4 linked regions of the Homo sapiens genome follow. The protein of the gene in region 3 purifies or fractionates together with the protein of the main gene of each other region. This does not show direct contact. Each region holds a gene or a part of one and is shown on either strand. Other genes may lie near its edges.

The links.
Region 1: the proteins of SYMPK (region 3) and CPSF4 purify together in Homo sapiens (affinity purification with mass spectrometry; 5 studies listed by BioGRID and IntAct, with this or other methods). This does not show direct contact.
Region 2: the proteins of SYMPK (region 3) and CPSF1 fractionate together in Homo sapiens (co-fractionation; 5 studies listed by BioGRID and IntAct, with this or other methods). This does not show direct contact.
Region 4: the proteins of SYMPK (region 3) and CPSF3 fractionate together in Homo sapiens (co-fractionation; 6 studies listed by BioGRID and IntAct, with this or other methods). This does not show direct contact.

The regions. Positions count from the first base shown.
Region 1 is NC_000007.14:99,434,635-99,441,957, reverse strand, and holds the start of CPSF4 (cleavage and polyadenylation specificity factor subunit 4), read right to left. Parts: upstream 3,016-7,323; 5' UTR 2,876-3,015; coding exon 2,773-2,875; intron 2,532-2,772; exon of another isoform or gene 2,362-2,531; intron 1-2,361. Other genes in the region: PTCD1 (pentatricopeptide repeat-containing protein 1, mitochondrial), read left to right, coding at 6,716-7,168; ATP5MF-PTCD1 (ATP5J2-PTCD1 fusion protein), read left to right, coding at 6,690-7,168. UniProt on the Homo sapiens protein: Component of the cleavage and polyadenylation specificity factor (CPSF) complex that play a key role in pre-mRNA 3'-end formation, recognizing the AAUAAA signal sequence and interacting with poly(A) polymerase and other factors to bring about cleavage and poly(A) addition.
Region 2 is NC_000008.11:144,392,721-144,399,346, forward strand, and holds the end of CPSF1 (cleavage and polyadenylation specificity factor subunit 1), read right to left. Parts: coding exon 6,556-6,626; intron 6,483-6,555; coding exon 6,408-6,482; intron 6,319-6,407; coding exon 6,238-6,318; intron 6,149-6,237; coding exon 6,059-6,148; intron 5,919-6,058; coding exon 5,805-5,918; intron 5,724-5,804; coding exon 5,582-5,723; intron 5,511-5,581; exon of another isoform or gene 5,469-5,510; intron 5,413-5,468; coding exon 5,234-5,412; intron 5,160-5,233; coding exon 5,023-5,159; intron 4,942-5,022; coding exon 4,767-4,941; intron 4,694-4,766; coding exon 4,487-4,693; intron 4,210-4,486; coding exon 4,120-4,209; intron 4,022-4,119; coding exon 3,878-4,021; intron 3,781-3,877; coding exon 3,628-3,780; intron 2,832-3,627; coding exon 2,715-2,831; intron 2,636-2,714; coding exon 2,545-2,635; intron 2,463-2,544; coding exon 2,378-2,462; intron 2,304-2,377; coding exon 2,162-2,303; intron 2,077-2,161; coding exon 1,924-2,076; intron 1,836-1,923; coding exon 1,659-1,835; intron 1,581-1,658; and 14 more. Other genes in the region: ADCK5 (putative aarF domain-containing protein kinase 5), read left to right, coding at 56-172, 249-354. UniProt on the Homo sapiens protein: Component of the cleavage and polyadenylation specificity factor (CPSF) complex that plays a key role in pre-mRNA 3'-end formation, recognizing the AAUAAA signal sequence and interacting with poly(A) polymerase and other factors to bring about cleavage and poly(A) addition.
Region 3 is NC_000019.10:45,860,130-45,867,692, forward strand, and holds the start of SYMPK (symplekin), read right to left. Parts: upstream 3,019-7,563; 5' UTR 2,929-3,018; intron 1,899-2,928; exon of another isoform or gene 1,771-1,898; intron 1-1,770. Other genes in the region: FOXA3 (hepatocyte nuclear factor 3-gamma), read left to right, coding at 4,328-4,396. UniProt on the Homo sapiens protein: Scaffold protein that functions as a component of a multimolecular complex involved in histone mRNA 3'-end processing. Specific component of the tight junction (TJ) plaque, but might not be an exclusively junctional component. May have a house-keeping rule.
Region 4 is NC_000002.12:9,426,640-9,433,660, reverse strand, and holds part of CPSF3 (cleavage and polyadenylation specificity factor subunit 3), read right to left. Parts: intron 4,897-7,021; coding exon 4,833-4,896; intron 3,739-4,832; coding exon 3,641-3,738; intron 2,910-3,640; coding exon 2,781-2,909; intron 1,151-2,780; coding exon 973-1,150; intron 1-972. UniProt on the Homo sapiens protein: Component of the cleavage and polyadenylation specificity factor (CPSF) complex that plays a key role in pre-mRNA 3'-end formation, recognizing the AAUAAA signal sequence and interacting with poly(A) polymerase and other factors to bring about cleavage and poly(A) addition.

The sequences.
Region 1 (7,323 bases), on a different chromosome or scaffold from region 3:
CACTTTGGGAGGCTGAGGCGGGTGGATCACTTGACATCAGGAGTTCAAGACCAGCCTGGCCAATATGGTGAAACCCCATCTCTACTAAAAATGCAAAAATTAGTCAGACATGGTGGCACGTGCCTGTAATCCCAGCTACCTGGGAGGCTGAGGCAGGAGAATCACTTGAACCCAGAGGCAGAGGTTGCAGTGAGCCAAGATCGCGTCACTGTGCTCCAGCCTGGGTAACAGAGCAAGACTCTGTCTCAAAAAAAAAGAAAAAAAAAATTCTGAAAGTACTTCTGGTCTCTCTCTTTAGAGGTTAGAGTTGCTTCTGCTCAGAAATACACAGTTCTGGGAACTGAGTCTCATGTGGATAGGATGAGTATGCCTTATGGGCAAAGTGACAGTTCTTCCCAAAACTCAGATGGGGATGAAGAGGAGGGATGGGTGAGGAAGGGCTGTGGCCTCACTAGGCTTTAACTGAACAGGATATGGACAAGCAGCGAGTGTGGAGGGTGCCTACCGACTCTGAAGCCCTGGCTGGAGCAACACCCATGGCTAGGTGTGTCCCGGGCCTCAGGAACAGGTATGTGGGCCCCTCGCCACTGTACCTCCCCTCACAGGCTTGTGGATGTGTCAGATGGCAGAAGGGTGGGAGGAAAAGAGCTGCCCTGCGTGGGTGGTTCCATGGTCTCAAGCTAGTGCCATCAAGACAGGAAAAGGCCGGCTGGGCACAGTGGCTTATGCCCGTAATCCCAGCACTTTGGGAGGCCGAGGCAGGTGGATCATTTAAGGTCAGGAGTTCAAGACCAGCCTGGCCAACATGGTGAAACCTCATCTCTACTAAAAATACAAAAATTAGTTGGGCGTGGTGGTGGGCGCCTATAATCCCAGCTACTCAGGAGGCCAAGGCAGCAGAACTGCTTGAACCTGGGAGGTGGAGGTTGCAGTGAGCCGAGATCGCACCATTGCACTCCAGCCTGGGTGACAAAAGCAAAACTCTGTCTCAAAAAAAAAAAAAAAAAAAAGACAGGAAAAGGCCACATGTGCAGGGATGATCACAAGAGTCGAGGGGTAGGTAAGAGGGGGTGTGTGTGTGTGAATTTGAGCAGCTGCTTTTTAGGGAGTGTACAGTGGTGATGGTGTTTGTGCCTGTGTCAAATAGGGTGGTCTGATGATGTCTCCTTATAAGCACTATCTTGTCTTCTTGAAGACTTAATTAATTTCCAATGAAACTATCTTGTACAGAACTATCACCATGTAAAGTTGTGGGACAGGCAGGAAAAAAAAAAAAAAAAAAATATATATATATATATATATGCCAGGTGCAGTGGCTCATGCCTATAATCCCAGTACTTCCGAAGGCCGAGGTAAAAGGATCACTTGAGCCCAGGAGTTCAAGACCAACCCTGGGAAACATGATGAAATAGTGTCTCTACCAAGAAATACACACAAAAAAATTTGCCAGGCGTGTTGGTGCATGCCTGTGGTCCCAGCTACTTGGGAGACTGAGGTGGGAGGATTGCTGGAGCCTGGGAAGTCGAGGCTGCATTGAGCCATGATTGCGTCACTGCACCCAGCCTGGGCGACAGAGGGGCCCCTGTCTCAAAAGCAAACAAACAACAACAACAAAAACACATAAAGGGACAGACTCAGAGGTCACATGTGCATGAGAAGGTGTGACCGCCTGAGGGGAGTGAGGCTGCTGGGAGCGGTGGGAGACCCCGCTGGTAGTTGTGGGCGACAGCACACAACACTGGAGAGCTTGCCCGCCTCTGCTATGCACTGAGTGATTGTCAGCAAGTCCCTTCCCCCGCTTGGGTCTCAGTTTCCCCATCTGTGGATTGAACTCAGTGACTTCCACAAGCCCCCAAACTTTAAGGTTATAGCATTAGATTTCAAGTATGTCCAGATAGGAAAGAAGACACAAAGAAAACTACTGGTTTCTTTTAAAGTACAAGATATCCCACCGAGTAGGAGGTGGGAAGCCAGGAGCCACCATATGAAGGGGAGCAGTGAAGGGAGTTCAGGCCAAGGGTCCACACCAGCTGCTGGGTGTGATGAATAACTCAGAGTTGGGGTCCAGAAAAAAGTAGGGACGGGCCAAAAACTAGGGATGAGCTCCCAGGAGAGTGAGTCCTAGAAGGGAGTTTGAGAGTCTAGCTGGGGTCTCCTACAGAAAGGTGGTCCTTCCCTCAGCACATCTCCTCCAACCGCCTAGTTTTGATGAAATCAAGAAGAGACGCTCAACGTAGCGGGTGTGATATCCTAGTACTCTCCTGCAGTTGGGAGAGTGTTGAGGGAGAGTTCCAATCCAGGATAACCCACCCTTATTCAAGAATTAAGCGAACAGACAAGGTCTACCCTCCTACAGATTACCTTTGAACAGCCGCAGAGGGCCAAAGATCCGAGGCAGTGAACTCCTGAGTCCGAGTGAGGGTAAAAGGAGTCCCCAGACGGTGGAAATGGGGGCCTGGGAGTCAGGAGTCCTGAAACCAAGGGGAGCGTCCCGGGATCCAGAAGAGGAGGTCTCAGGATGGAGTGGGAAGAGTCTCGGGACCACAGATGAGGGAGTTCGGTAACTAAAGGGGAGGATCCCAGGACCCGGAGGAGGTGGGAGGGACTCTCAAGACCTAGAGGGAGGAGTCCTGCGACCAAAGGGGAGGGGTCCCAGGATCCAGAGGAAGCCGGGGGAGGTCTCAGGACCGAGGCGAGGGAGTCCCGGGATCACAGAGGAGCGGGTCCCGGGTTCGAGTCGCTCTTGCCCTCCCGCCCGGGCCCCGCGCTCACTGTCCATGCCGGGGAAGGGCAGCGGCTGCGCCCCCAGCTGCTGCTCCACCGCGATCTCCAAGTCAAACTTGATGTGGTCCACGCTGGCGATGATTTCCTGCATGGCGGCGGCGGCGGCCCCACCGGCCCGGCTCCCCCTCGGTCTCCTGCAGCCTTCTCGCCTTTACCCGCCGCCGGCCCCGCCGCACACACTCCTCCTTCGCTTCGCCTCGCCGCCGCCGCCGCCGCCGCCCGAGGGATGCCGGGAGCGCCCGGAGCCCGCGCCGGCCCTTGCGCCTGTCCAGGCACTGCCAATCGAGACTCCGCCGTTCCGCTAGTCCCAGCTAGCCGCCAGCCGAACACCGGCCTCGCCAGAAACCTGAAACCAGCCGCGTGAGTCGGCGACGCGGATTGCGCCTGCGCGCTTGGGGAGAGGGGGACCCGAGGAAGAGACTGGTTCGCCGCGGGGACCGGGCAGGGCTCCCCGTCGGAGTGCACTGCGCCGGACACTTCAAGTGAGTTCCTGTGTGATCCTCGCAGGAGCCCCGGGACCCGGGCCAAGACACGCCAGAGGGGAAGGAAGTGCCCGAGCCGGGATTGGAGCCGGGGGCGTCTGAGGAGGGAAACTGAGGCTGCAGAAGTCCGTGTGGAGAGGGGTCGGCGTTGGCCTGAGGGTCCGGGTGGGCCTCTGAGGAGGGGCGGGTCTCTCCGAGGAAGGACGGCCGCAGCGTGTCTCTAATTCAGGGTTTTTTCTCGCTCTGTGGCCCAGGCTGGAGTACAGGGGTACGATCATAGCTCACTGCAGTCAACTTCTCAGACTCAAGCGATCCTCCCACCTCAGCCTCCCGAGTAGCTGGAACTACAGACGCTGCACCACCACACTTGGCTAATTTTTAAAATTTTATTTTTAATTTTTGTAGAGACGGCGGGGTTGGGGGGGCGGGTGGCGGGTCTTGCTATGTTGCCCAGGCTGGTCTCGAACTCCTGGCCCCAAGCCCAAAGCGATCCTCCTGCCTGGGCCTCCCAAAGTGCTGGAATTGCAGGCATGAGCCACTATACAGCCTAATTCAGGGTTTTTTTTAACCAGGGTGGGGTAATGAGCTTGTGTAGGAACAAAATGCACCCCTATTTTTCTCTATGTGAAGTATAGCATTTCCTTTCCTGATTGCTGGAGCAGCCTTAGCAGTGCCTGAAACTGTGAGGGTGAGTGTAAATGATAGTTCCAGATAACAGTTTGTGCAGGGCCAGGCATGGTGGCTCACACCTGTAACCTCAGCACTTTGGGAGTCTGAGGCGAGAGGATCACGTGAGGTCAGGAGTTCGAGACCAGCCTGGACAGGATGGCAAAACCCCGTCCCTACTGAAAATATAAAAATTGGCCTGGAGTAGTGGCGCGTTCCTGTAATCCCAGCTACTTGGGAGGCTGAGGCATGAGCATGGCTTAAACCCGGGAGGCAGAGGTTGCATTGAGCCGAGATTGTACCACCCCACTCCAGCCTGGTGACAGAGTGAGACGCAAAAAAACCCAGTTTGTGCAGCAACTACAAGGTGGTATCTTAAGCTGTCACTTACATTTATTACTGCTTTGAAATTATGATAGAGTCGGCCGGGCGCGGTGGCTCACGGCTGTAATCCCAGCACTTCGGGAGGCCGAGGCGGGCGGATCACAAGGTCAAAAGATCCAGACCATCCTGGCCAACATGGTGAAACCCTGTCTCTACTAAAAATACAAAAATTAGCTGGGCTTGGTGGCATGCGTCTGTAGTCCCAGCTCCAGGGGAGGCTGAGGCAGGAGAATCGCTTGAATCCGGGAGGCGGAAATTGCAGTGAGCCGAGGTCACGCCTGAGGACAGAGTGAGAGACTGTCTCAAAAAAAAAAAAAGAAAAGAAAAGAAATTATGATAGGGTCTTGTTATTTCATGCATTGAAAATAAGCATCTATACTAGTATAGCAGAAATTTGTTTTTAAAGCATTTTGATGCCATTTCAATATCATTGCTTTTTGTTTTGTAATTCTGTGTATTGTAATTAATGCACGTAAGGCAGGGCATGGAGGCTTACGCCTGCAATCCCAACACTTTGGGAGGCCAAGGCTGGAGGATTGCTTGAGGCCAGGAGTTCTAGACCAGCCTGGCAACATAGGGAGACTCCATCTCTACAAAAAAATACAAAAAATTAGACAGGTATGGTGGTGTGCACCAGTAGTGCTAGTTAATTGAGAGGCTGAGGTAGGAGGATCACTTGAGCCCAGGAGTTGGAGGTTGCAGTGATTGTGCATTTGCACTCCACTGTGCCATCGCACTCCAGCCTGGGCAACATGAAGACCCCATTCCACAAAAAAGAAAATTACATAAACACCATGCTTGTAAGAAGGAGTGGCAGGGCTTGCCAGATGCAGAATGATAAAGGCCCCCTGCACTAGTTTCACAAAAGGTGCTGGTCAGGACAATCATCAATGCGTTACATGGACCTGAGTTCAAAGCCAGCCCAGCCCAAGCTGGCCAGTCTCACCCACTGCACTGCTGCAGGACCCCAGCAAGTCTCTCCCCTTGCTGGGCCTAGTTTTTTGTTTGTTGTTGTTGTTGTTGTTTTGAGATGGAGTCTTGCTCTGTCGCTCAGGCTGGAGTGCAATGGCGCGATCTTGGCTCACTGCAACCTCTGCCTCCCACGTTCAAGTGATTCTCCTGCCTCAGCCTCCCAAGTAGCTGGGATTACAGGGGCACGCTGTCACGCCCAGCTAATTTTTATATTTTCGGCAGAGATAGGGTTCACCACGTCAGGCTGGTCTCGAACTCCTGACCTGAGGGGATCCACCCACCTTGGCCTCCCAAAGTGCTGGGATTACAGGCGTGAGCCACCGCTCCTGACCTACTGGGCCTAGTTTTTAATCTGTTCAATCTGCCATCACTTGTAAGACTTTTCCAATCGCAACCTTCTAATATAACCAGACTCTAAAATACTTTAGGCTGGGCATGGTGGCTCATTGCTGTAATCCCAGTGCTTTGGGAGGTCGAGGCGAGAGGATTGCTTGAGTCCAGGAGTTCAAGACCAGCCTGGGCACATAGCAAGACCCTGTCTCTACCAAAAAATAAAATTAGCCAGGCATAGTGGCTCACACCTGTAGTTCCAGCTACTCGGGAGGCTGAAATGGGAGGATCGCTTGAGCACAGGAGGGTGGGGCTGCAGTGAGCTATGTCTGACCTGAACCTAGGCTTTCTAACCTCTGGGCCCATACTTCTTATTTTATTTATTATTATTATTTTTTTTTTTTTCTGAGACAGAGTCTCACTGTCACTCAGGCTGGAGTGCAGTGGCGCGATCTCAGCTCACTGCAAGCTCCGTCTCCTGGGTTCAAGCGATTCTCCTACCTCAGTCTCCTCAGTAGCTGGGATTAGACGTGTAGCACCACACCCAGCTCATGTTTTTTGTATTTTTAGTAGAGATGGGGTGTCGCCAGGCTGGTCTTGAACTGATCTGCCCGCCTCGGCCTCCCAAAGTGCTGGGAGTGCAGGCATGAGCCACCGCCCCTGGCCTGTTCTTTTTCTTTCTTTCTTTTCTTTTTTTTTTCGAGACAGAGTCTCACTCTGTCACCCAGGTTGGAGTATGGTGGCGCAATCTCAGCTCACTGCAAGCTCCATCTCCCAGGTTCAGGTGATTCTCCTGCCTCAGCCTCCTGAGTAGCTGGGATTACAGGCGCACAGCACCAAGCCTGGCTAATTTTTGTATTTTTCATAGAGACGGGGTTTCACCATGTTGTCCAGGCTGGTCTCAAACTCCTGACCTCAAGTGATATGCCAGCCTCGACCTCCCAAAGTGCTGGGATTACAGGCATGAGCCACCGCGCCTGGCCTGGGCCCATACTTGTAACCACTTCTTTCTTTCTGCCTTTTGTTACTAGGAACTGAGTTGACTCTCTTATTTTTCCTGATATATTCCAGGCCCTGGAGGGACAGGAAAGCCAGAAATGGACTTCGTGAGACTCGCTCGACTGTTCGCCAGGGCCCGCCCCATGGGACTGTTCATCCTGCAACACCTGGACCCCTGTAGAGCCAGGTGGGCAGGAGGCAGGGAGGGGCTGATGCGGCCAATGTGGGCGCCCTTCAGCAGCTCCTCCTCTCAGCTGCCCCTCGGCCAGGAGCGTCAGGAAAACACGGGCAGCCTGGGCTCTGACCCGAGCCACTCCAACTCCACGGCCACGCAGGAAGAAGACGAGGAGGAGGAGGAGAGTTTTGGGACCCTCTCTGACAAATACTCCTCCCGGAGACTATTCCGCAAATCCGCAGCCCAGTTCCATAACCTGCGGTTTGGGGAACGGAGAGATGAGCAAATGGAACCGGAGCCCAAATTATGGCGAGGCCGGAGAAACACCCCGTACTGGTACTTCTTGCAGTGCAAACACCTGATCAAGGAAGGGAAGGTAAGGGGCACTTTGGGTTCTGTGGCTCCTGGCTTCTTTCCCCTGGTGGCTCAGTGTTTTGCAAGGGGTCACCTGACTTTCCCAGCCTCTAAGTTTTGGGCCTACCCTGTTGAACTGCCAGCCTTATGGCTGTAAGTATCGCAACCCTTTGCCAT
Region 2 (6,626 bases), on a different chromosome or scaffold from region 3:
GGGCCGTGGTGGGGCTGGTGTGGGGCTGACGCGGCGCTAACGCGGGTGTGTGCAGGGCTGTCCGGGGCTGGAGCCGCCTGGCGGGCGCCACGTATCGGGGTGTCTACGGCACCAGCCTCCTGCGCCACGCCAAGGTCGTCTGGGAGATGCTCAAGTTTGAAGTGGCGCTCAGGTGAGTGGCCGCGGGGCAGGTGGGTGGCGGGGGCCTGCTCCCCACCCACCTGTGACCTGTGACCTGACCCACGCAGGCTGGAGACCTTGGCCATGCGGCTGACCGCCCTCCTGGCTCGTGCTCTGGTCCACCTGAGCCTCGTGCCCCCAGCGGAGGAGCTCTACCAGTACCTGGAGACCTAGGGTGCAGCCGCCCAGGGCCGGCGGGGCCCTTTTCACCTTGGGCTGACGGAGGTGGCGGGGCTAGAGGTGTAGACACCCCGAGCCCCGTGGGCACTCGCACTGGGGGGCTGTGACAGCAGCTGGGCCAGGAGGCCGTGTAATGACCACACACTCCTCTCAAGCAAAAAATGTTTTTCCTTGTGTTTTGTACAAAAAGGGGGTGGGAGGTAGTTCCGTGTGCTGGTGGTGACGGCATCCACGGGGCTAGAAGTGGGCGGTGACGCGGTCCGTCTCCAGCAAGTCGTCCAGGATCTGCAGGGGATGGAAGGGTGGGTGGGTGGGTGGGTGGGGATGCACACGGAGGGGCGGGGCGCGCGGGGGGCGGGGCGCGCACTCACTATGTCTGGTGTGGTGCCGATCTTCTTGGCTAGCTCGCTGCGCTCCATGGTGCTCAGGTACAGGTAGCGGTTGAGCAGCTCCCCATCCAGCACGTTGCGCACGGCATTCTGGAGGGTGCGGCGGTCCACGTGCAGCATCCTGGGGCGTACAGGCACAGGTGTCAGGGCAGGCTGGGGTGGAGGGGGTGCTGCACGGGGGCGGGGCCGGGGCTCACCGGAAGGCGCGGGGGTTGAGGCCGGCGTGGTGTGGCAGCATGGTGGTCAGCGCGTTCTGCAGCATCAGCAGCCGCCGGTAGGTCTTCTCCTGCATGGGCAGCAGCAGCCCGATGCCGCCGTCCAGGGTGGCTGGCAGGGGTAGGGTGAGGGTTTTGGTGTGAGCCAGGCCAACCCTAGGGCCCCCCACCCAGACACACCTGCTCCCCCACACTCACCAAACCACGTGATGTGCTTATTCTCCCACACGACCGACTTTTTGCTGAGCCCTTCAGTGGCCCCCCGGCACGGGGTCCTCCAGAACGTGTTCACGTGGGCACCCACGTGGAAGTCTGCCCGACGCAGCAGGCGCATGCCCCCGAAACTCTCCTTGGCTAGACCAGAAAGGCCTAGGGGTCACTGCTAGCCCAGCCCCGGCCCAGGCAGAGGGGGTGGAGGAAGCACTCACCTTCGGGCAGGTACATGTACACCATGAGGTTGCGGTCGCGGTCAGACACTGGGGAGCAGAGGCCCAGGGTCAGCCCCGGCCACCCCCAGAGCCTCAGCTCCCCAGGGCCCTGCCCACATACCCAGAAAACCCAGCTGGGCATTGTCCACCATGAAGTCCACGCTGTACACCTCCAGGGGCTTGGCATCCTGGGGGCGGGAAGGGGGCGTCAGAGGTGCCTTGGGCGGGTACCCACCCAGACACGAGCACCGCCGCCACAGGTGTACCCGCGACACCAGGCTCAGCGTCTTGCTTTCCTCCTGGTAGCGCAGCAGCGAAATGCTCTTCATGACGTCGGCTGCCAGGATGAAGTTCTTGACGCTGATCATCTGGTGTATGTAGAGCTGCGTGTCGATGAAGGCCATGCCCGTCAGCTCGCTGGCCCGCAGGCTCCACAGGAAAATCTGGGGGCGAGGGCGAGGGTGAGCGGGCGCGGACGGGGAGCCGGGTGAGGGTGAGCCGGGGGACACACGCCGGGTGGGACTGGCACACCTTCTGGCCGATGGCCGACACCAGGTGGCCATTGCAGTGGCACAGGGCGGTCACGGGCCCCTTCTGCTCCTTCTCGTAAAGGACTTTGAACTTGTTCTTGGTCAAGGGCTGGCCAGGCTCGGGCACCACCTCAATCACATCCATGATCAAGATCTGGAGGGCATGGGTATGGCTGTGGGATGGCTGTGGGGATGGCAGAGGGGCTGCCAGTTCCCGCCCCCGCTCACTGGCCCCTTACCCGCCCTCGGCACGTGACCTCCTCCCCCTGCATGAGGCAGGTCCCGGCGGCCACGTAGCCTTTGAGGCCCGACACGGTCTCCTCACTGCGCAGAGACACTGTCTTCATGCAGGTCACATGCTCCCACTCCTGCAGCTCGATCCTGTGGGGGCCAGGGGCCTCAGGATGCTGCCTGGAGGCCTTGGGCAGACCCCACCCCCGCCGGCCCAGCCTCACCTGGCATTGGGAATAGCCTCCCAGCTGACCGGGGAGATGAGCTGGATGGAGAAGGCCTCCTGCTGGGGGTGGATGTACCGCTCATCTGTGGGGACCAAGGGTGACAGTCAGAGTAGGGCTTCCCCAAGATGCGGCTGAGGATGGGAGTATGGTGTGGGCGTCACCACCTCTCTCGATGGTCTCAAACTCCTTCTCCTCGCCAGTCATGCGTGGGATGCGGGCACACGGCGTGTTGGTGCTGGTGGCCACAGCATACACCTGTGGGTTAGTGAGGGTCACACACCAGTGGCCCGGCCAGGCCCAGAAGGTCCCTGGTGGGGTGGGGGTGGGGGCAGACCTTAGACTCCACGTGGTAAGCCACATAGTGGGCCGTGCAGCGCAGCGGGATCTTCCTGACAGGCCATGGGGCATCATAGGACAGGTAGGCAGGCAGGACACTGATCCTCAGCTCGCCCTGGGGTGGGGGCACAGGGGTCAGGGGATCCAGGGCTAGCCAAGGGCAGGGGCAGGCAGGCCCAGGCCGCCAAGAGCCCTGGGATGTTGCCCTCAGCTCTGTGGGAGCAGGGGTGGGTGAGGGGCAGCTGTGTCCTGGCGAGGTCCTGGAAGGGGCTGCCACTCAGCCTCTGGGGCTCCTCCTGTCCATTTTCCCACGCTCAGCTGGGGCTAGGGGTGCTGGCCACAGGGGATGGGAAAGCTAGGCCAGGAGGGCACTGGAGGCTGCAAAGGGCAGCCCACAGACTGCCATGCTGGGGACTGAAAACCAGGCAGAGGGAGCCAGGGCTGCCCTCTTTCATGGACAGTCCTGAGTCCTCAGGCACCCAGGAAGCACTCACCGCATCCCAGGCAGGGTCTCAAGTGACCTGGTGGTGTGGTGGCTTAAATAGGGAACCAGGATGAGAAAGCCTGTGTGCCCTCCCAAAGTCACAGAGCAGCCAAGGGGCAGAGCTAGCACTCACGTCAGCTCTCCTGAGAAGTGTGGAGGCCAGGCCCTGCGAGGGCTTGCCCGGCGAGCCGGCAGAGCAGTGGTGGGGACCCCAGGGGCTGCAGCCCCAGCTCCCAACCACCCCTTTCCAGACCTTTGGAGCAACCAAGTCACAGGTTCCACCTCCTCGACCTCAACCCCATCGCCCTCTGGACACTCCTTCCTGGTCCTCAGGGTGGAGCCAATGGTCCCTTCTCCTGTCCCCTCCCCCTCAGCCCCCAGCTGGGGCAGCATCAGCCAGTGCTGCTGGGAACCGGCCGGGCCCCACCTGTCTGTTGAAGTACAGGAAGCCGCGGGGACAGTTGACATTGTGGAATGGAGCGAAAGAGTCGACCGGGCCGTCGATGGCCATGGGGTGTAGCCGCAGAGCCCCTCGGCCGGTCACCAAGAGCCAGTGAGGGGAGGGGCCGCAGATGAAGACCTGGGGGCAGGCACCGTGAGGATGCTGTGGATGAGGATGCTGCGGATGAGGCCGCGTCTCCCTTCTACCACAGACCCCTGCAAAGGCGCTGGCCTACCCCTGAGTAGCCATAAATATCCTCGAAGTAGCGGAAACGCGCCACGCGGCCCCGGGCCCCAGCCCCCTCCTCTGCGCCGCCACCTTCTGCTTTCTTCTTGGATGGCTTTGGCTTCTTCTCACGGAAGTTGATGTTGTGAGGGACCTGGGGGGGAACCATGCAGGTCCTCCAGGGGCTGCCGGTCTGAAACCCACACCTTGTACCACACCCACCCCACGCCCCAGCAGTCCAGCCACTGGCACCTTCTTAAAGCGGACTTTGAGATTGCCCTGGCCGAGCTGAGAGTCGTGGGGGAAGGCCTCGTAGATAAGCAGCTCTTGGTCCACATGCACCTGGCAGGATGAGGGGAGCCATGGGGGAACGGGCAGGGCCATGGAGAACATGGGATGGGCCATGGGAAGAGGTGGGCTGTGGGTAAGGGGCGGGGCTGAGATGGGGTGGAGCCATGTATGGGAAGGGGCGGGGCTGTGAGGGAGATGGGGTGGAGCCACGGGAAGGGGCGGGGCCGTGGGGGAGATGGGGTGGAGCCACGGGAAGGGGCGGGGCTGTGGGGGAACGGGCAGGGCCAGGGGGAAGATGGGAAGGGGAGGCCAGGCCAGGCGCACTCACCAGCAGGTAGGGCCTGCTCTGGCGGCTGCCCAGCGCCACCAGCAGCACCTCCTTGACGAGGGGCAGCTCCCCCTGGCGCGTGGCCTCCTCCCTGCGGGCCTCGCCCTGTGTAGTGGGCTGTCCAAAGGAGCTGTCCACAAGGACCCGCTGCCCCACAGGGAAGTTCTTCACCAGGAACACCAGCCGCCAGTCGGGAAGCTGGTAGATCTGCAGGGTGGGCAGCAGTCAGTGGAGGCAGGTGGGTGGAACCCGCTGGGCCACAGTGCAGGGCACCACCTACCTCCATGGTGCCATTCTCCCGCACCAGCAGGCACCAGTGGGTAGGCTCTGCCCGGAAGGGTGCAGGGTCCCGGTCAGCAGGGGGCTGGCTGCTTCTTCGGGCCTCCTCCTTGCTGGGGCTGAAGAGGGAGCCCGAATCCCCATACAGCATCTCCTCCTCGTCATCCACTGTGGGGCTGGGGGCCAGCAGAAGGTCATGGGCGGCCTGCCAGCCCCAGGGACCCAAGCCCCTACCTGCGCCCCCAGCCCCCACGCACCTAGTCTCTGAGCCCAGGCCCTCGGCCTCCGGGCCACTGCGGCCCCCGAGCTCGTCACGGGCCCCACCCAGGCGGCTCTCAGTGGTGAACATGCCGCTGAGGTCTCGGTACAGGCACAGCGTAATCACCTTGGACTGCTGCGGGGAGAGGGGTGGGCTCAGCGGCGGGCAAGGGGCAGGGACAGGAGGGCGCCGGGAATGAGGGGGCCTACATGGTGCAGCGGGGGCTTGTGCAGCGCCAGGCGGTGGTGGCGGCCACCGTAGGAGTCACTCTTCAGCAGGAACATGGTGACGTGGCCCTCGGCACTCATGATGACCACATAGGGGTCGGCCACGGCGCACTGCACGATGGGGGCGCCCAGGTCCACGGGGATGAAGTGCAGCTGATTCACTGTAGGCATGGGGCAGTCAGCATGCGCCTCCCCACCACCGTCCCCACCCACCTACCTCCTTCCAGCAGGCGGATGCCCAGGGCCCAACCACCTCCCCCCCACCGTCCCCACCCACCTACCTCCTTCCAGCAGGCAGATGCCCAGGGCCCAACCACCCCCCCCACCTACCTCCTTCCAGCAGGCGGATGCCCAGTGGTGACACTTGGACAATGTAGCGGTTGTCCCCGATGTTCCCAGCAAAGACCGTGGGGCCCTGAGTGGCGAAGCCACTGGTGTCCAGCTCCATGATCTCCTGCCCCGTCTGCAGGATCTGCGGGCGACAGCTGTGAGGGAGGCGCCCCCCGCAGGGGACCCCAGCCCCAGGTCCCAGGTCCCAGGCCCTGCCCCTCACCATGGTGGAGTCTTCCCGGCTCAGAATCAGGAATCCGTGTCTGCGGCCGTCGTCGTCTGCTTCAGGGGTGGTGCTGGGTTCCTGCTCTGTGCCCTCCCCCTTGGGATTGTCCTCCTGTCAGGGCCAAAGGGGGGCAGGCTGGAAGCCACAGTCCAGTGAAGGCAGGCACGCAGGTGCGACCTGGGCACCCCCGGCCTATGAGAAGGCAGCGCCGGTCCCATCCCAGGGCCTCCCTGCAGCAGGCTCGCACCTACCTCCTCCTTACGCACCGGGGCGATGACTGTCCACATGTCATAGCAGCCGGGAAGCTCAAAGGTTGTCACCACCTGGGGCCGGATGCTCTTCTAGAATGATGATGGGGTGGGGGTGTGATGGGGGTGTGAGCCCACCCAGGTCCCACCAGGAGGCGCCCGCCCCCTACCTGCCCACACACCTGCAGCACCGACAAAGCCCCGTTCTTCCCGTGGCCGGAGCAAACCACAATCTCCAGGTCCGGCTCGGGGCTGTTCTGAAACTGCACAGGACTCGGGGGTGAGGACTATGCCCCCCACCCCCCCTCACACTCCAGCCCCTGCCCCCAGCCCCGACCCCAACCCTGGGCACCTCTTCAGAGAGGAAGGCAGGCTCGCCCACGGCGGCATTGGCACAGGGTCCAATGTTCAGGATGCTGTCACACACCTGCGGCACAGCAAGAGTCAGGGGCCCGCTGGGGGCGCTGGCTGGGACGGGGGCCCTGCTGCCTCAATCTCACCTCAAAGGAGTAGGTGGCCAGCTGTGTTCCCGACTGGGCCTCGCTGCCGTACACTTCAATCTCGTCCACCT
Region 3 (7,563 bases):
AAAAAAAAAAAAGAAAAAATAATCAGTTAATATATATTGAACACGGCCGGGCACGGTGGCTCAAGCCTATAATGCCAGCACTTTGGGAGGCCAAGGCGGGTGGATCACCCGAGGTTAGCAGTTTGAGACCAGTCTGGCCAACATGGTGAAACCTCATCTCTACTAAAAATACAAAAAAATTAGCCAGGCATGGTGGCAGGCACATGTAATCCTAGCTACTCGGGAGGCTGAGGCAGGAGAATCGCTTGAATTTGGGAGGAGGAGGTTGCAGTGAGCCGAGGTCACATCATTGCACTCCAGCGTGGGCAACAAGAGTGAAACTGCGTTTCAAATTAAAAAAAAAAAGAAAAAAAACCCACACACACAGAGAGAGAAAGAGAAAGAGAGAGAGAGAACACTTAATATGTGCTAAGCACAATTCTAAGATATACATATTAACTCATTTAAACCTCAGACACCAAGGTTTAAATGAATTAATATGTATATATTAGAATTAATATACATGAGTTAGGTTTACATTTTTTGTTTTTTTGAGACAGGGTGTCACTCTGTTGCCCAAGCTGGAGTGCAGTGCCGCAATCTCAGCTCACCGCAATCTCTGCCTCCCGGGCTCAGGCGATCCTCCTACCTCATTTTCCCAAGTAGCTGAGACTACAGGCGAATCCCCATTTAATTTTTGTACTTTCTGTAGAGAAGGGTTTCGCCATGTTGCCCAGGCTGGGAGTTAGTATTTTTAATTTTCATTTTACAGATGAGGAAACTGAAGACCAGGGAGGTAAAGTGACCTGACCAAAGGCATATAGCTTGTAAGAGGCAGAGTCAGCAGCATGGCTGCATATCTTCCTTACCACTATGCTACAGTACTGTTTATCTGAAAGGAATTGTTTTTTACCCCCAGGTCTGTTTACGTAAGCCAAGGATCCTGGCCACCAGACAACCGGCATGGCATGCCGTCCCCAGTCAAAACATAAAAAAAACAGGCCGGGCATGGTGGCTCACACCTGTAATCCCAACACCACTGCACTCCAGCCTGGGCGACAGAATGAGACTCTGCCTCAAAAAATAAAATAAAATAAAATAAAACCCCATAATAAACATTTCCACTTTTTTCATGATAATACATTCAGATCAACCAAAATATTTTACCCTGTTTCATTCTTCTTCTGCTTTTTGGTTTATGCTTTCAGTTTTGTTTTGTTCTTTTTTAAACACACATACACAAAATTCTCCTGCAGGAGCTAGATTTTATGCAAAAAAAGGAAAAAAAATGAAAATAAAAAAACCCATATATACATATTTCCCTTTCATTTACAAAAAGAGCATACACAGGGCCGGGAGCGGTGACTCACGCCTGTAATCCCAGCACTTCGGGAGGCGGAGGCAGGTGGATCACGAGGTCAGGAGTTCAAGACCAGCCTGACCAACATGGTGAAACCCCATCTCTACTAAAAATACAAAAATTAGCCAGGCGTGGTGGTGTGCCTGTAATCCCAGCTACCTGGGAGGCTGAGGCAGGCGAATTGCTTGAACCTGGAAGGCAGAGGTTGCAGTGAGCCGAGATCACGCCACTGCACTCCAGCCTGGGTGACAGAGTGAGACTCTGTCTCAAAAAAAAAAAAAAGGAGCCTACACAGGCCGAGTTTGGTGGCTCAGGCCTGTAATCCCTGCACTTTGGAAGGCTGAGGTGGGCAGATCACTTGAGGTCAGGAGTTCAAGACCAGCCTGGCCAACACAGAGAAACCCCGTCTCTACTAAAAATATAAAAATTACCTGGGTGTGGTGGGGCACGTTTGTAATCCCAGCTACTCGAGAGGCTGGGGTGGGAGAATCACTTGAACCAGGGAGGTGGAGGTTGCAGTGAACTGGGATCGTGCCAGCCTGGGCGACAGAGTGAGACCCTGTCTCAAAAAAAAAAAAAAAGAAAAAGCATATACAATAAACACCAACCTCCACTTCACTTGTTTTCCCTTAATATATGTTGGAGGCCACTATATCAGTGTATAGAGATTTTCATCATTTCCTTTTATCTACCTCATTCCTTTTTAGAGTTGCATAGTATTTTTTATGTGGATGTATTATAGTTTCTTTCAGCCAATCTTCTTATTTAAGAACATTTGGGATGCGTGTAGCCTTTTGCTATGATGAACAGTATCACTGTTTCCCCTTCCCTCTCGATGTACTCGTTAAGAAGTGGTACCCTGCCCCACTGCTACCTAGGAATCTGATGACTACCCTGTTTCCCCAAACTGGCTCTAGGAGTATCTTTTATTCCTTCAACGAACATTAGCTGGGCGTCTCCGGCGTGATTGGCGCTGTGCTGAGAACACAGTGGCGACAGAGACAAACCTAGTCCCTACCTTCATGGAACACACGGTCATAGACATCATAAAACAGCACACAGATAAGAGTCGGATAACAAATTAGACCACACGTGACATGAAGGAACACGGACCGACAAAAGCATTTAACAGGCGGATTTCTGGATGGAGGGCAGGGAAGGAGGGCTTCGCAGAGGAAGTGACGTTGGTGCCGAGACCCGAAGGATGAAATGGGAGTTAGCCAAGCCGAATGGGTAAAAGGATGTTGCAGGCAGAAGGGACAGCCTGTGCAAAATCCCCGAAGCGGGAAAGCGCATGGCAAGTTTAAGGAACCGAAAGGCCAGGGCGGCTGTTAGAGGTGGGGGAAAAAGCAAAGAGGCCGAGTCGAAGCAAGCGAGGTCTGCGGGGCGGTGGCGCCCGGGGGGCCACGTTGGAACTTTGCCTCGAGGGCACTAGGGAGCCAAGGAAGGGTCCTGAGCAAGGGAAGAAACATGGGTCGCGAAAGCCACTGTTCCCCTCTCCCCACGGCGATGCCCTCCCCGCCCGAGCCCCTGCTTCTTTAGGAGCCTCCTCCTTTCGTCTCCGGGCCCAAACGCCGCCTCCCGCTCACCGCAGCTCTGGCCTCCGTTCCCCTCGCGCCCCCTCAGCAGTGCCTCTTCCTACACTCCGCCGCCGCCGCCGCCGCCATCTTCCGTTCGTCGCCGGGAACGGTGCGCACGCGCCACACACCCAGGGCCGCCGGGAAATGGAGTCCAGAGCACAGCCCGACCCCGCCCATGCCTCGTCCCGTGCGAGCGGCATTCTGCCCGCCTCCATACTACGGCGAGCAGACCCTTCATTTCCGGCTCTGGGTCCGGCTAGGCCTTCTGGGAAATGTAGTCCCTTCGGAGGCACCGGGCGGAAAGGGAGCTAGAGCATTCTGGGAAATGGAGTTCTCAGTGGTGCTGAGTCCCTGGACGGCTGGCTGGTCTTGGAGAGTGCGGAGTTCGGGCAGCGAAGCTCCTGGGTCTTGGAGGGGAGGTGGTCTGTTGCCCTAGTGGGGTCTGCGGAGAGGCCCCGATCCCCTCCATCTTTGTTCTTGACCCTTTCAACAGTCTGAAGCATTTCTTTTTCTTTTCTTTTCTTTCTTTCTTTTTTTTTGGAAACGGAGTCCCGCTCTCTCTCCCAGGCTGGACTGCAGTGGCGCGATCTCGGCTCACTGCAACCTCCGCTTCCTAGGTTCAAACGATTCTCCTGCCTCAGCCTCCCGAATAGCTGGGATAACAGGCACGCACCATCACGCCTAGCTAGTTGTTGTATTTTTAATAGAGATGGGGTTTCACCCTGTTGGCCAGGCTGGTCTCAAACTCCTGACCTCAAGTGATTCGTCCGCCCGCCTCGGCCTCCTGCAGTGCTGGAATTACAGGCGTGAGCCACCGCGCCCGGCCAAGTTAAGCATTTCTAGCCGTCGGAAGCCTCAGTCTTCCTGTCTGTCCAATGGGGATGTGATTTCGGGGACCTTTTACGGGTCCTTGTAGTCGCATAGTGGCCCTAGCGTTCTGATTCCCCTTTCTTCCGCCACGGTCATGCAGGGCTCTGGCTCTTCGTCCTCTCCTGCCGAGATGATGAAGCCCCCTGAGGTAGAAAGGCTCCAGAGTTCTGACCTCGGGGCCCTTGGTATCTGCAGCGTCGCTGCGGGCAGCTCCCTCACTCCTGAATCACCCCCAGCTGTCGCGTCCTGGGGCTGCGGCCCCCGGCGCCTGAGGTCTGTCTCCTGGCGATCCCGCAGGGGGCGCCCCAGTCCGAGCGCGCCGCCCTCGGGGAGGCGGGAGGGGAGCCCGGGGCGGGCGAGGGCGGGGGTGTCCCGGCTATAAAGCGTGGCCGCCTCCCGCGGCGCTCGGGACAGCCGTACCCCGGGCGGTCGGACGGGCGGGCGCCGGTGGGAGCTCGGGCCGTGCCCGCTGAGAGATCCAGAGCGCTCCGTTCCCCCGGGGCCGGAGCGGGGGCGGGTGGGGGCGTAAGCCCGGGGGATGCTGGGCTCAGTGAAGATGGAGGCCCATGACCTGGCCGAGTGGAGCTACTACCCGGAGGCGGGCGAGGTGTGTCCTCGGGGATGGCGGAGCGGGAAGTTGGGGGCAGGTATCGGGGTGTGGGCTCACATGGAGCAGGGACTGGTTGTGGGTTCAAATGGAGGCAAAGGCGTCTACTTGGGCAGCTGAGGAACTGGGAACACGGAGACCAGGTGTGGAAGTCGGGGACCGGGGACGAGGCATGGATGGGAGCGCTGTTTGGGCAGCCTCGCCGCGGCCAGGGCTTAAAAATGGAAGTCAGGAAAATTTAGCCAAGGGTCGGGTCACACCTTAAACTTGGGAGCCGGGTGTTGGAGCCCCAAAAAGCAAGGGATTTATATGTACAAACCAAAGATAGGAATCAGAGTTCCAGGGTAGGGGACAGACTAGGGGGTTTCAGGATGTGAGGTTCAAAGTTGGAGGGAAAGAAAGACTAAAAGATGGAGGAGGAGTCACCATTAAGGGGAAGACTGAGGTGGGAGCTCAGGGCCAGCACACAGTGTTAAAGAACCGGGGTTCGGGGCTAAGGATCAGCTGGTAATCTAAGGTAGGGTCAGACATAGGGATTGGTGCTCAGGGGTCAGAGATGGGGGTGCTCAGAGATGAAGCTTCGTTTTTGGAGTCTGAAATAACAGGTGGCTTAGAGTTGGGCATCTGGGAGCAGAAGATGTAGCCATCAGCATTGGCAGGAGAGGGGCCGATCTCCACCCCCCCATCCCTACCCATGACCCTCCGCAGGGACTCCCCAAGTCGGAAGATGGAGAGTTTTAGATTGTGCACCTTCCCCTGCTCCCCGCCAGTCCAGCAACCTCCAGCTATTGCTAAAATTCCCATCCAGTCTCACCTCAGACAAGGCTTCCCTGGAGTGGGGGGTGGCGGCATATTCTAATCCCCTCACCTGGACAGACAGAAAGTCCTTCCTCAAGTCTGACCCCCATTCGTCTTGCTGCAACGACCCCTACACCTTAGCTACCTCACTCTGTAATCAACGTTGTGAGGTTGTTGGGGCTGGGGGTTGGGTTCTTGGTCTGAGAATTATGGGGGTCTGGACACTTGGACTTCTAACCTGGAAGGGGACTGTGGGCTTGAGGTGGGGTGTGGGGCAGGAATGGCTAGGTTCTCCAAGGAGTCAAGATCTGGTGACTGCGGGGGCCCCAGTGTGCCTGAGTCTTGGGTCTGGGGCTCGAAACTGTAGGGTGGGACTCCTGGATCCCCAGGCCTTCAGGGCTGGGCAAGGTGCCTGGGAAGGGCCAGTCCTGGGTTTGGGGAGGTGTGAGGTGCACGTGGGGTGGGGCAGGGCCAACAGGGAAAGGGACTGGGAGTGTTGAGAGGTGGAGGCAGGGTGGCTGGAGGTATCAGTTGTGAGATGCGGAAGGCAGAGACCCAGGTGGGAAATGGAGGGTTCCAGGTAGTGGGGGTGATCCCAGCTGGACCTCTGCAGAACTCAGTCTGGGGACCTGATTTAAGGGAACCACCTACAGACCAATTGTACAAACCAACTACAGTTGTTTTGGGGGCACATCTTAAGTAAATGATGGGGGTCTAGGCAGGAGGAGTTGATATTTGGGGCACAGTCTGAATAGATCCAAGTTTAGGGGACAATTTGTATGGAAATTGTGTCAGAAATTGAAGGAAAGCCGGCACAGTGGCTCACACTTGTAATCCCAGCACTTTGGGAGGTCGAAGTGGGAGGATCTCTTGAGCCCAGGAGTTTGAGGCCAGCCTGGGCAACATAGGGAGACCTTGTCTTTAAAAAAAAAATTTTTTTTTAATTAGTCAGGCATGCCTGTAGTCTAAGCTACTTGGTTGGGAGGCTGAGGTGGGAGGATCACTTGAGGCTGGGAGTTCGAGCTGCCGGGAGCTGTGATCGTATCACGGCACTCCAGCCTGGGTGACAGAATGAGACCCTATCTCAAAAAATAATAATAGTAGAGGGACAGTCTGGAGGTAATCAGCATTTCAGGGCATATTTTGGGAGAGTCAGTATTTGGAGGAATGGAAATGGTTGGGTGATACTGTCTGAGGCTCTCCCCAGCCTTCCCATCAGATAAGCCCACCTCTTCCCCTTGGGTCAGAACAATGGGGAGAGAAATACCTACACTCAGCCAGCAACTGAGAGCTGAGAGGGTCCCCAAACCACTTCTTGCCCATAGCACCCTCCCGCTTGGGGTGACGTTAACACTCAGGGCAGCTTGCTGTCTGGAAAGAACTTGGAAAGTTACCATCCTGGGATATCCCTGTTGGCCTCAGGTTCTTGCAGATCAGCTGGTCCAGCTGCTCCCCTGTTTTAGAGGTGGTTAACTCTGAAGCCCCGCACGCAGAACACTGGGGTCCTGGGTTGGGTCTGGGACTAGAAACTTGGCTTCTGGCTTCACACTGCCTTCCTCTGCTCCCTGTCACACCCTTCTCCAGAGACAATAAGGAAATGAAAGAGGAGAAATTCCAGTCTCCTGGTGTGGGGGTGCGGGTCCCCCAAGGGCTTCCCCCCAATCTCAGCCCCACCCTGTCAGGGGAGATCCGGCTCAGACCCGGACACCAGGGGTTCATCCCAGCCCCGGGGCGTGGGAAAGCCTAGGGTGGATTAGGGCAGCTGGAGTGCTTGAGGTCGGACCTCAAGGAGGACTTCCGGGTGGGTGGGGAGCCAGAAAGGAGGGCCCTGGGGTCCCTGTCTGTCTTACTCTGCAATACCAGAGAGCCTGACTGGGTTGCAGAAATGGGGGGTGGAGGTATAGGGGGATTTGGAAACTCTGTGGACCCCTCTAATCCATCACCTTCTCACCTCATCCCTTTTCTTTTTCTGGGGAGGGGACCCGAAGCCACCAACCAGCGGGAGAGCCTGCATGGGGGAAGGGAGTAACTGTGGCTGCAATTTCACTGTAAGACTTGGGGTGAGGGGGAATGGATTTGTTGAAGGGAGGGAGATAGATAGATAGATAGATAGATAGATAGATAGATAGATAGATGCATGGATGGATGGATAGATAGATTGATAGGAAGATGGTGGCTCGTCATGGTAGCTCATGACTGTAATCCCAGCACTTTGGGAGGCCGAAGAGGGTGGATCACTTGAGGTCAGGAGTTCAAGACCAGGCTGGCCAACATGGTGAAACCCCATCTCTACTAAAAATACAAAACTTAGCTGGGCATGGTGGTGCATGCCTATAATCCCAGTTACTTGGGAGGCTGAGACAGGAGAA
Region 4 (7,021 bases), on a different chromosome or scaffold from region 3:
ATAATCTATTCCCAGTATCATCTCACAATGATAACCTATATAACATTAATCCACTTGAGAAGTGCTCTGAACTTCTTAGAGAAAAAGGGCATGCAGACAAGGAAAGGAGTGCACTGAGGTACATGGTCTAAAACCGGAGATAAAATCATAAGAGGGTCTGCATCAAATTCCAAGAGAATTCACATCTGCATTTGTGCTACTTATTTTTTGTGCCCTGGAGCAAACTGCAAGAATAAGTGATTTAGTGATATACTTTACAATTCAATGTCTAAAAGTTCCAAATGTATAAGCAGCTGTGAAAAATTTAGGACGTGACACTAGAGCATTGGTTCTCTGGCTGACGTTAGAATCACCTAGCAAACTCGAAAAGGAAAAGGCCAAGCTGCGCCTCCAGATTTTGATTCAACAGTTATTTTCAGCAGCTCCCTAAGTGAGTCTTATTTGCAGCCTGAGTTCAGAGCGGCTGCTCTGGAGTCTGGAAAGCCAGCGGCCCACCCACGTTGTCAGAAGTTCAAGGCTTCCCCAAAGATCTTTCCTAATTAACCCCTTTCACTCTTGCAGTCCACCCTGCTTAGGGGCTTACCTGTGAATTCTAAGACATCAGGGGGACATGAATATCAAATTGTGTTTTAATTTTAAACGAATGCAGCCACAAAGACACCTCTTCCCTAACCAGTTTTCTAAAGCAAACGGAATCCTATGGTGTCAGGGAATCACTTTTTGAGATGTTTATTTTACTCTTTTCTCAGTCTTTAAAAATTTTTTTTTCCTCAGTCTTGATAAAGAAAGTATTGTAATGGAGGTAGGAACTGCAATATTTAAAAGGAACAAGCGTTAACTGTATTTTTATCTTATGTTTCCGTGTTCTGACACTTTGCAAGTCTTAGGGAATTTTTTTTTTTAATAGTACTTGGTGGCACAAAGCTCTGTACTGATTTCTCTGGGGAGAAAAGCGCCACAGCCAGAGGGTACCTTCACGCCTGCGATCTCAATCATGAACATGGCGGCTCCTAGGACGTGACCTGCATGGTAACACCAAAACTTGATTCCCGCAACTTCCTTAACTTCATGAAAGTTGATAGTTTCAATTTTGTCCATGCTTTCTTCCAAATCTGTCTCGGTATACAGCATGTCGTCTGCTGATATGTTACTAAATTTTGAAAGATGCCAGCAAAAACAATTAAGAGTCAGATTTTTTAAAAAGCCTTTGAACACAAAGAAATTGTGGATAACATCTCCATGAAGATATTTCTTTAAAATATACTGTATGAATCATGTATTTAAAATTTCTCAGATATTTTGTGTATTTTTTTTTTACTCTATTGTGTGTATAGCTACAAAACTTGATTTTAAACAAACCACACAGGAAATTAAGACACTGAGCTCAAAGTACTCTCAATTTTCAATAATACATACAATAAATTAAGACAAAATACTCTTTAGGATAGTACTTCTCAAACTTTTTTCCCACCCCAACACTCCTGAAAGATATAACACACTCACATACATTGAACCATGGCAGATATTTCTCACATTAGGATGAGAAAAGATTTTTCTACAAAGTCTAGCACAACCTTTCTCCTGAAAATTATGTTAATGTACTTACAAAAAAGCAAGAGAGAACAGTGGTTAAGGACGCTGACTCTGGAGCCAGATTGTTTGGGTTCAAATCCTTGCTCTGTCTCTTACTGTGACGATTTTAGGCAAATAACCTAACCTCGCTGTGCCTCAGTTTCATCATCTATAAAATGGAATTTATAATAGAACCTACATCATGAGTTGGTGTGAAGATTAAATATATTTATCTCCCGGCTGGGTGCGGTGGCTCAACCCTGTAATCCCAGCACTCTGGGAGGCCAAGACAGACAGATCACCTGAGGTCAGGAGTTCAAGACCAGGCTGGCCAACATGGTAAAACCCCGTCTCTACTAAAAATACAAAAATTAGCCAGGCGTGGTGGTATGCACTGTGTGCCTGTAATCCTAGCTACTGGGGAGGCTGAGACATGAGAATTGCCTGAACCCGGGAGCAGAGGTTGCAGTGAGCTAAGATAGCGCCACTGCACTCCAGCCTGGTCAACAGCACAAGACTCCGTCTCAAAAAAAAAAGAAAAAAAAAAAGAAAAAAAAAATATGTATATTTATTTATCTTTGTGTGAAGTTAATATACATTAGGAATTTAGGATTGGGCCTAGTATGTGGTAAGCATTATTGAAGTGTTAACGAGTGTTACCACAATTAAGCATAACTCTTCCAATCCAGCCTAATGAAGTTTTAAAAGGACACAAAAAGCTATATAAAGACTTCAAGGCCAGGCCAGTGGCTCATGCCTGTAATCCCAGCACTCTGGGAGGCCAAGGCAGGAGGATCACTGGAGCCCAGGAGTTTGAGACTAGCCTGGGCAACATAAGACCCTATCTCTTCAAAAAACAAAAAACTCTGCTGGGTGTGGTGGCACACACCTGTAGTCTCAGCTGCTCAGGAGGCTGAGGTGGAAGGACTGCTTGAGCCCAGGTGGCTGAGGCTGCAGTGAGCTGTGATCACACCACTGCACTCCAGCCTGGATGACAGAGCAAGATCCTGTCTCAAAAAAACCTTCAAGGTCAGGAAGGTGCTAGAAACACAATAGGTTTCAATGACCTTGTTAATGAATGATGAAATTACTGATATCCTTATACATGAAAAGGGAGCACCTCATTTTAAAACACAAAATGGTCCATATCTTGAACCATACATGCCATATAGAGCCAAAGTCGTGTATAATCTAATAAAGTAATTTACCTAACTTTGACATAATCAGAAAGAAGCCATCTATAAATAGCTTTTGTGGCATGAGTCATAAATGTTCTTCCTTTGAAACTTGTCTTCTGTAGAAACCAGGGCAGAGCTCCACAGTGATCCAAATGGAAACTTAAAAAGAAAGAGGCTGCATTAATTCTTAAAATTATTATCCATCAGATACCATGTAATGAAACTGTTGCTTACTGTACAAAACAAGTTTTATATAAACAACTATGTGCTGATACTTTCAGAAAAACCAAGAGTAGGTATGTGTAGAAGGAAGAAGTAATGCATACAGTTCTAAAATGGAGGAAAGATGTTTAAAGTATTGTTTTTAAACAGCAAAAAACTTTATTAGTGAATTAGGGAGGAAGAAGAATATCCCAAGCCTACTCCTGGCAGCCAGAATTACAGCAAACATTTTAACAGAATAAAGTTGAAACATGGATATCTCCCTGAGGTCACTGTCTTGTCACATTTTTCTATATGAACTCTATTTAAAAATAGTTTCAATAAAGGTGAAATGGCGTTCTTATAGAAGAATGTGATAAAACAGTGACCTCAAGGAGATATCCTGGAAAAGGGCTTTCTTAGTCTCAAGTTTTACAATGATTCAAGTTCTGTACTATCTCCTTCTCACATACTCACTGAACTTATACATAGAGGTAGGTAAGTTTTTCATAGCAAACTTCTCTAGCCTGTGATGACATTACGGAGTGTTGGTTTAGACTCAGATGTCTGCAATATGCTTCCTAGCAGAAAACACTCTTTTAAAAAACCAAACTCTCAAAATCTAGTAAAGAATGATCTTGATAGTAAAAGTCCGTGAAAAAGTGTCATTAATAAAGGGAAAAACTTACTGACTAATTAATAGGAGATCAATCTCAGCTGGGTCAATTAAATCAATATAAGGAAGAGCATCCATTCCTTCTAGGCCAGGGTGGATCCCACAGTCGAGCTGAAAGAAACAGGAAAAGAGATCACAATCTCCTGCACATTTTATTAAAATTCATTCGGCAAATAGGCAATAATTCTAGTTCCATCACCCATATACTCAAGATGGACTCCAGGCACTAGCACTTGGAACATGATTCTTATTAAATGTGGCAAATATGCCATTAACAATTCTAACTTCCCAACAAATTTAAAATATAGCTCACATTTAGGGGTCACAGGATGCAAAGTACAAAACAGCTTCTTTCCAGCTACTTTTGGTCGTCATTCTAACAACGAATTAAATCTTTTTCAAAAACTTTGATATCAGATTAAAATTTTAAAAGTTTATAGATTTACTACTACCAGATCGACTCTCGTGAGAAGATAATAATTAGAAATGGGAAACTTACCTGATCAGGGTAATTTAAATATTTTAAGGCATTAGGGAACAAATTCTTAAGACTCAGTCATTAAAGTTACTTATTTTTATGGCGTTACTACCAAATTAACAAAACAGATGACTAAAAGGATGACTATGTCTGACCTATACATGTTCTTTTCAGATTGGGAGGAGTTGAGAAGAAAGAGGAATCAAAGGAATCTGAGACACAGAACTGACTTTCTAATGAGTACCTTAGAAACTATCTCCTCTAACCCCTCTACCTTTCAGGCTTAGAGAAGCAAAGTGACTTGGCCAAGGCCGGCAGCCCCAGTGGGACCTGGGGATCCAAGCTTCTAGGCCAAGGCTTGATCCCCACATGCTGGAGGCGGCTAGAGCTCTCAGTGTGTTCAGAGTGCTTGGGCCCTTGGGATCTTCCACTGGGGGTGGGGCAGTTAGGCTGGCTCAACCCTTCAGGAGTGGAAGAGGGACTTTGAAGAGGTAACAGTTCAACAGATCTAGCTGACAATTTTACAGTCATAGAATATATCTTCTTAATCAACTAAATTACTAAGTAGAAGTGTGTATTAGTTTTTCTCATTAACACTATACAGCATAGATTACATGTACTATAACATTTTTCTGGGAGCTAAAAAGATAACTAGTCTATGAGAAAAGACTAACACCCAATACAGACAGAGCCATACTATTAAACTGAGTACAAAAATAGTAATTACCATTATTTTTCTTCCTTTGAACTCGAGAATAATACATGATCTTCCTACTTCTTGCCCAGCTCCACTGTAAATATTCAAGGGGAGAAAAAGAAGGATTAAAAAAAATCAAAACCAAGTCCAATAAACTTACACTTTTTTACAATGTACACTACATGCCATCTGATGACAGCACCTCACTGAAAAATTCTGAGACGTAAGAGAGTTCTACAAAATCACAAAGACAGGGAAGAACAGTGTCCACATGAGAACAGATGAAAACTGATCCTTGGGAGTCCAGGGATCTTGCAGTTCTTAAAATTAAGAGAGAAGGCGGTACAGATCCAAGAAGCCCAAAGGTTTGGGCTTGATTTAAATTCAATTTTCTGAATTTTAGGATTAAATTATAATGTATTTAAAATGTAAACTAGCAGTTACGCAGATTATATAATAATACTTCTAGAATTAGCACTTAAGTAGAAAGCCATAAGCATTTCAACACTGTCATCTTCTTTAAGATCATAATGTGTATTTGCCAAATGGCTTAAATTTAAATGGCCGGGTGCGGTGGCTCACGCCTGTAATCCCAGCACTTTGGGAGGCCGAGGCAGGCAGATCACGAGATCAGGATATCGAGACCCATCCTGGCTAACACGGTGAAACCCCGTCTCTACTAAAAATACAAAAAATTAGCCAGGCGTGGTGGCGGACACCTGTAGTCCCAGCTACTCGGGAGGCTGAGGCAGGAGAATGGTGTGAACCCAGGAGGCGGAGCTTGCAGTGAGCTGAGATCGCGCCACTGCGCTCCAGCCTGGGCAACAGAGCGAGACTCTGCCTCAAAAAAAAAAAAAAAAAATTTTTTTTTTTAAAATACTTATTCATACTGTGAATTTCAATCACTTTTTCTTCTACTTTCTGTTATTTCAGCATATTTTATACCAACTACTTACATAATTTTTGTTTCTTCTTAATAATTTCAGCCATAATTTGCAATGGTCACAAGGCACACTTTAAGTTAAACCTCATCTTTCAAATCCCTCACCTTCTTTGATGCCTTTTCCCAACCATTCTAGCTCACAATCCACTCACTCACTCAACATTAAGCAGCTTCTATTTGCCAAGCACTGGATTAAGTGCCTAGGACATGGAAATGCCTTACAGGGACCCTGACCTCAAGGAACTCAGTCAGATGGACATGCAATGGATCTATCCCCAAACTGAGATCCTACCTCCAAACAGGTGTTGATACAGAAGATCAAACAACTGTGGATGAGAGCCGCCATAAATTCCTGGCCTTCCACTTTTTAAACATTTTTTATTTGTAATTATTGTGGATACCCTGGCCTTCCACTTTAACTGGCCCTCAATGTTGCCTGGCTGTTTTCTCCATTTCATTTCCATATCAACTATTTTCAAACTTTCTTCCCTTTCCCAAATTTTCCAACCTTCTATCCTCTTCTTCACTTGAGGCATGGGCCATCTTCTGCATCAAAAAAATAAACAGTCCATTTGTAAATTTCCTCAACTTCATGTTGGTACAATAATTAAGAATACATGTACCAACAGGGTACCAACCTGCCCACATCTGTCTCCTTCTATTTCTCCTCTATAGATAGAATAGACCTCTCTTTCCACAATGAAACTTTCCACCATTCTACTCTACGTACTCCCTCCCTCCTTCTGAGGAACTCAACACTGCTGTGTCATTGACATTTTCCTCACTGTCTGCTCTTTACCATCCAATCCAAATTTAAACATACTACAGCCATGTTCATCCCCAAATTAAAATCCCTTGACTCTAAGCTCCTTTAGTTCCCACTTTATTCTTTCCCCAGACCACCTCCCAGGGCAGTGGACCCTCTTGTACTTCCTCACCTTCTACTCGCTCCTCAATTCGCTATACTCTGGCTTTTACCAATCACTTTTCTGAAACTGTCCTTGCTGCTCAGTAGTCATTTCAGTCTTTTTTTTTTTTTTGAGACAAGGTCCCCCTATGTTGCCCAGTCTGGCCTTCAACTCCTGGGCTCAAGTGATCCTCCCGCCTCAGCCTCCCAAGTAGCTGGAACTATAGGTGTCAGTCCCTATCTTGTTCTCTTGGCAGCCGTTGTCACTCCTAAGGAGTACCTGCTCCTTCCTCAAGCACCTCTCCCTTGGCTTCTCTGACCTGATGCTCTCATCTTGTCTTGCTGGCTTTCCTGTTTCCTTCACATATT